Linked DNA regions of Homo sapiens. The protein of the gene in region 2 purifies or fractionates together with the protein of the main gene of each other region. This does not show direct contact. Each region holds a gene or a part of one and is shown on either strand. Other genes may lie near its edges.

Evidence for each region.
Region 1: the proteins of SPMAP2 (region 2) and TTL purify together in Homo sapiens (affinity purification with mass spectrometry; one large-scale study listed by BioGRID and IntAct). This does not show direct contact.

Annotation. Positions count from the first base shown.
Region 1 is NC_000002.12:112,495,562-112,499,384, reverse strand, and holds part of TTL (tubulin--tyrosine ligase), read right to left. Parts: intron 1-3,823. UniProt on the Homo sapiens protein: Catalyzes the post-translational addition of a tyrosine to the C-terminal end of detyrosinated alpha-tubulin.
Region 2 is NC_000019.10:363,381-366,093, forward strand, and holds part of SPMAP2 (sperm microtubule associated protein 2), read right to left. Parts: intron 1,641-2,713; coding exon of another isoform or gene 1,545-1,640; intron 1-1,544. UniProt on the Homo sapiens protein: May be involved (but not essential) in spermatogenesis.

The DNA.
Region 1 (3,823 bases), on a different chromosome or scaffold from region 2:
TCAAATATCAGATGGGCATATATGTTTTGGTCTATTTCTGAGTTCTCTATTCTCTTCCACTGATTTATGTTTCTTCTGTTTTTGAGACAGAGTCTTGCTCTGTCACACAGTGGTGTGATCTCGGCTCACAGCAACCTCTGCCCCCTGGTTCAAGCAATTCTCATGCCTCAGCCTCCCGAGTAGCTGAAAGTACAGGCATGCGCCACCACACCTGGCTAATTTTTTTGTATTCTTAGTAGAGATGGGGTTTCACCATGTTGGCCAGGCTTGTCTCGAACTCCTGACCTCAGGTGATTCAGCCGCCTTGGCCTCTGCTGGGATTTCAGCCGAGAGCCACCGTGCCTGGCCCCACTGATTTATGTTTCTATTTTTTCATGAATACTACAGTGTATTAAGTACTATAGCTCTAAAATACATCTTAATATCAGGTAGCATGTTCACTTATATTCTTCTTTTTCAAGATGTTTAAGCTATTCTAGGGCTTGTGCCTTTCCATATGAATTTTTATTATTTATTTATTGATTGAGATGGAGTCTTGGTCTTGTCGCCTAGGCTGGGCCCAAGCGATTCTTCTGCCTCAGCCTCCTAAATACCTGCGATTACAGGCGCCCGCCACCATGCCTGGCTAATTTTTGTATTTTTTAGTAGGAACAGGGTTTCACCATGTTGGCCAGCCTGGTCTCGAACTCCTGACCTCCGGTGATCCACCCGCCTTGGCCTCCCAAAGTGCTGGGATTACAAGTGTGAGCCACCGTGCCCGGCCCCTCCATGTAAATTTTAAAAGAAGCTCCATGTCTATACAAAAATGTTGCTAACATTTTGATAAGAACTACATAAACCTATAGACCAGTTTAGGGTGAACTGACATCTTTACTATACTGTCCTGCAATCCATGAACACGGTATGTCTGTCCATTTCTTTAGGTCCTCTTTGACTTCCTTCATAATCATTTTACTATTTTTAGCACACAGAGCCTATACATGTCTTGTTAAATTTATACCCAAGCATCACATTTTCTCTAGGGTGACTGTAAGTAGTACTGTAGTTTTTTGGTTTTTTTTTAGACGGAATTTTTGCTCTCTTGCCCAAGCTGGAGTGCAATGGTGCGATCTCAGCTCACTGCAACCTCTGCCTCCTGGGTTCAAGCGATTCTCCCACCTCAGCCTCTTGAGTAACAGGGATTACAGGTGACTGCCACCAAGCCCGGCTAATTTGTGTATTTTTATAGAGACAGGGTTTCAGCAAGTCAGCCAGACTGGTCTCGAACTCCTGACCTCAGGTGATCCGCCCGCCTTGGATTCTCAAAGTGCTGGGATTACAGGTGTGAGCCACTGCGCCCAGCTAAGTAGTTTTGTGTTTTTAACTTTGGTTTCCACATGTTCATTGTTGGCACATAAAAATGTGATTAAGTTTTGTGTGTTGCTCTCATATCCCGTAACATGGCTGAACTCACTCTTTAGTGAGTTGTCACCACTTCTTATTATAACCATTTTAATAAAAGTGTAGTGACAGTTCGTTGTGGTTTCAGTTTGCTAGAATCTTCTGATCTATGCTTTAGATTTATAGCTGATTTCTACCTGGATCTCATGCTTTCTTTATAAATGAATTCAATTCAGTTCATTAATTCAATGATCCACCTTTCCCAAACGTTAACGCCCTTTTCAACTATCTTCTTCCTGTCACTTGTTCGACCATCTGGTGAGCTTCTTGAACAAGAAACTGCAAATCAACCTGGAAAAGCTCCCTTATTCTCTTCCCCTACACACATGACTCATGCTGTTTCATCTCCCTTAGGAATCAGACTCAGATTTTTTGATACAACAGTATCAAAAATTATAAAATAAATTTGAATTTTATGTATCGTTTTATACCTACAAAATAAGAAAACAAAAATGGTGATACTTTTAGTAAAAGTTCGTCATGAACTGCTCCCTGTTAGCTCACGGCCCTTTGAAAAAGCAAGAGGATAACACAGAGCAAGAGCCATAAAGGCTTCATATCATTTGACCAAGTAATCTCATGTTTCAAACTTACTCTAATGAAATTTTTAAGAAGAAACAAGAGTCAAGGCTGGGTGTGATGGCTCATGCCTGTAATCCCAGCACTTCGGGAGGCTTGAGGTGGGAAGATCACTTGAGCTCAGGAGTTCAAGAACAGCCTGGGTAACACAGTGAGACTTCATCTCTACTAAAAATCAAAAAATTAACAGGGTGTGGTGGTGCACGGCTGTCGTCCCAGCTACTCAAGAGCTTGAGATGGGAGCGGGCCCGGGCACGGTGGCTCACGCCTGTAATCCCAGCACTTTGGGAGGCTGAGGCGGGCGGATCACGAGGTCAGGAGATCGAGACCATCCTGGCTAATGTGGTGAAACCCTGTCTCAACTAAAAGTACAAAAAATTAGCCGGGTGTGGTGGCTGGTACCTGTAGTCCCAGCTACTCGGGATACTGAGGCAGGAGAATGGCGTGAACCTGGGAGGCGGAGCTTGCAGTGAGCTGAGATGGCACCACTGCACTCCAGCCTGGGTGACAGAGTGAGACTCTGTCTCAAAAAAAAGAGGTTGAGTTGGGAGGATCGCTTGAGCCCAGGAAGTCGAGGCTGTAGTGAACTGAGATCATGCCATCTCACTCCAGCCTGGGCAACAAAGTGAGACCTTGTCTCAAAAAAAAAAAAAAAATACACACACACACACACACACACACACACACACACACACACACAGACACATATATATATAAAATAAAAAATTAAAATTAAAAAAGAAACAAGGGTCATCTACAGCAAAGACATTTACTACTGTTATCTGTAATAGTGGAATAATGGGGTTGTTTCTAAACAATAATTTTCTGTTATAGATGTAGTGTGTTCCCACGCTCCAGGTGAGAGGTGAAGGTGGCTAGATTAGAAATAGGCAGTGGACATGGTAAACAGTAGCTTCATAATGGGTAGAGTTTGAAGGTTGAGCCAACTATACAAAGCATGTAGTGGGTACCAAATAAATACTTGTTTAACAAGAATAAAAACCATTCATTCATCCTATTGGTTTCATTTTATGGTTTCCAAACATAATAAATATATATCAAATATATATCTCTTCAACTCTTAAAGCAAAAAGTCTTTAGCATTTTATTCTCTCTTGACTTCCCCCTGCTGCTTGGTGTCCCTCTGAGTCTTGTCTTAGTGAGGGTCCAGGGATCACCAGGTGTCCTCACAGTGGCCATTCTGACTCCAATCCCAAACCCACAGGAGAAGGGATGTCTATTTCCTCTTCCAAATCCGTCATTTACCATTGGAACCACACTAGGGGGCAGTAGTTGAGAAAAGGTCACAAGAGGGGAGAGAGAAGTAGGTGAGATACCTGACTTGTGGCAAGAGTCCAACTCTCCCCCTTTCAGGGATACCAGTTGAGGCCTTCCTGTCTCATCGCTGGTGGAAAAGAAGGTGAGGTCCCTTCGACCCGGAACAGAAATGAGTACCAATGGCTAGATGTCTTCCAAGGCAATACAAGAAGTGAGTTCAAAATGGAATGGTTTTTTTTTTAATTTTTGAGAAGGAGTCTTGTTCTGTCACCCAGGCTGAAGGTGCGATCTCAGCTTACTGCAAGCTCCACTTCCCGGGTTCACGCCATTCTCCTGCCTCAGCCTCCCGAGTAGCTGGGACTACAGGCACCCGCCACCACACCCAGCTAATTTTTTGTATTTTTAGTAGAGACGGGGTTTCACCGTGTTAGCCAGGATGGTCTCAATCTCCTGACCTTGTGATCCGCCCGCCTCGGCTTCCCAAAGCGATGGGGTTACAGGCAGTGAGCCACTATGCCCAGCCAGA
Region 2 (2,713 bases):
CGGGGTTTCACCATGTTGGCCAGGCTGGTCTTGAACTCCTGACCTCAGGCGATCCGCCCGCCTCAGCCTCCCAAAGGGCTGGCATTACAGGCGTGAGCCACTGTGCCTGGCCTATTTTTTATTTTATTTCATTTTATCATTTTATTTTACTTTATTATTTTATTTCATTTTGAGACAGAGTCTTGCTCTGTTGCCCAGGCTGGAGTGCAGTAGCATGACCTTGACTCGCTGTAACCTCCGCTCCCCAGGATCAAGTGATTCTCCTGCCTCAGCCTCCCGAGTAGCTGGGGCTACAGGCGCCCGCCACCACGCCCGACTAATTTTTTGTATTTTTAGTAGAGACAGGGTTTCACCATGTTGGCCAGGCTGGTCTCGAACTCCTGACTTCAGGCAACCTGCCCGCCTCGGCCTCCCAAAGTACTGGGATTACAGGTGTGGGCCACCGTGCCCGGCCCCATTTTATTTTATTTTGAGGCAGGGTCTTGCTGTGTCTCCCAGGCTGGAGCACGATCTTTAGCTCACTGCAGCCTCCACCTGACTTGAACTGCTGGGTTCCAGCCATCCTCCCACCTCAGCCTCGCAAGTAGCTGGGGCTACAGTCATATGCACTGCCACATCGAGCTACGAAACCTACACTTAAAACAGGGTGAATTACAAATAAAAAATATTTCGGTTGGGCGCGGTGGCTCATGCCTGTAATCCCAGCACTCTGGGAGGCCGAGGCGGGCGGATCACAAGGTCAGGAGATCGAGACCATCCTGGCTCACACGGTGAAATCCCATCTCTACTAAAAATACAAAAAAAAAATTAGCCGGGCGTGGTGGCGGCTGCCTGTAGTCCCAGCTACTCAGGAGGCTGAGGCAGGAGAACGGCGTGAACCCGGGAGGCGGAGCTTGCAGTGAGCTGAGATCGCGCCACTGCGCTCCAGCCTGGGTGACAGAGCGAAGCTCTGTCTCAAAAAAAAAAAAAAAAAAAAGAAAGAAAAAAAAAGAAAAAATATTTTAAACGGCCACTGGCAGCCAGGCTCAATGGCACATGCCTGTCATTCCAGCACTTTTGGAGGCAGAGGCAGGAGGATCACCTGAGCCCTAGAGTTTTGAGGCCAGACTGAGCAACACAGCGAGACCCCATCTCTAAAAAAAAAAAAATGGCCACAGGTACCTGAAAGGGGGACTCAGGGGGCCACAGCCAAGAGAGCTCAAGTCTCCTCACTCTGCTGCCAACACAGGTGACCCTGGTTCACCCCCCTCTCCACCTGCTCATGTCATGGTGGTAAGTGGGTCGGGGCAGGAGGCATCTCCTCCCCCTGGCTGGGGTCATGTCTTGCTCCCTGGTGGCTGTCCCTCAGGCACTCGTGGCCCCCTCCTCCTGGTACCCCCTTCTCACCATCTCTCCCCCACCCCTTCCTTTATAGCAGGGAGCTGCAGCAGACTGCTTGGAGACTAGGAAGAAAGGTGGCCACCGAGTCTGGCATAGCAGCCGGGGCTGTCCTCTACCTTGTCTCTGAAGGCTTCAGGGCCTTTGATTTCTGGGAAAGCTCCCACCTTCTTTCCAGATCCCTCTTTGCGTGGAACTTCTGCGCAAATGAATAAGGGCTACCCACTTCTTGGCAGACCAGCCCTGGCTCTGTGAAGAGGCTCCTGGGGAAAAGAGTGTGGAGTCTCTTCCACTAGGCAGGCAGAACCCCACGTGGCACGTGGCTGGGCAAGGCCATCTGAATGGAAACTGCAGATACAGCACTGCCTTAGACCATCCTGCACGCACCCGCGCTCACCACACACACACGTCGTGAATATAAACATCCATATACTGGTACAGGTGTGAGTGCTTCTCTGGCCCCTGCTCTGCATGCTAATTGTCTCTTCTGCACCTTCCGGGTGGATGCGAGCTCTGCCCGGCAGATGCCCTTGTGCAGGGTAAGGGGGCCAAGCAGTGGGGCCCTGGTGACCCTAAGGGGGCTGGAAGAACCGTGCCCAGAGCCTAGCCTTCTTTGAACTCCTCTGTGAGAATTTAGTAGGCATCTGGGCTTTGAAACTCTGTTGAGTTTCCAGCACTCCCGAGCAGCAGCAACTGAGCCCACATAGCAAGCGTGAGCACGCACAGAGAAACAGCACAGCCACACACTCGCTCTTACCCCCACCACACAGCAAGTGTGAGCACACACACACAGCCACACACTCGCTCTTACCCCCACCACACAGCAAGTGTGAGCACATACAGCCACACTCTTACCCCCACATAGCAAGTGCGAGCACACACAGCCACACACTCGCTCTTACCCCCACCACACAGCAAGTGTGAGCACACACAGCCACACACTCACTCTTACCCCCACCACACAGCAAGTGTGAGCACATACAGCCACACTCTTACCCCCACACAGCAAGTGTGAGCACAAACAGCCACACTCTCGCTCTAACCCCACATAGGTCAGTGCACTTCATTTGCTGGTCTGCTTCACGTTTTAAAAATGCTGCTTCCTGGCCAGGAGCGGTGTCATGCCTGTAATCCCAGCACTTTGGGAGGCCGAGGTGGGCGGATCATGAGGTCAGGAGTTCAAGACCAGCCTGGCCAACATGGTGAAAACCTGTCTCTACTAAAAATACAAAAATTAGCCAGGAGTGATGGCAGGCTCCCGTAGTCCCAGCTACTCGGGAAGCCGAGGCAGGAGAATGTGTGAACCCAGGAGGCGGAGCTTGCAGTGAGCCGAGAT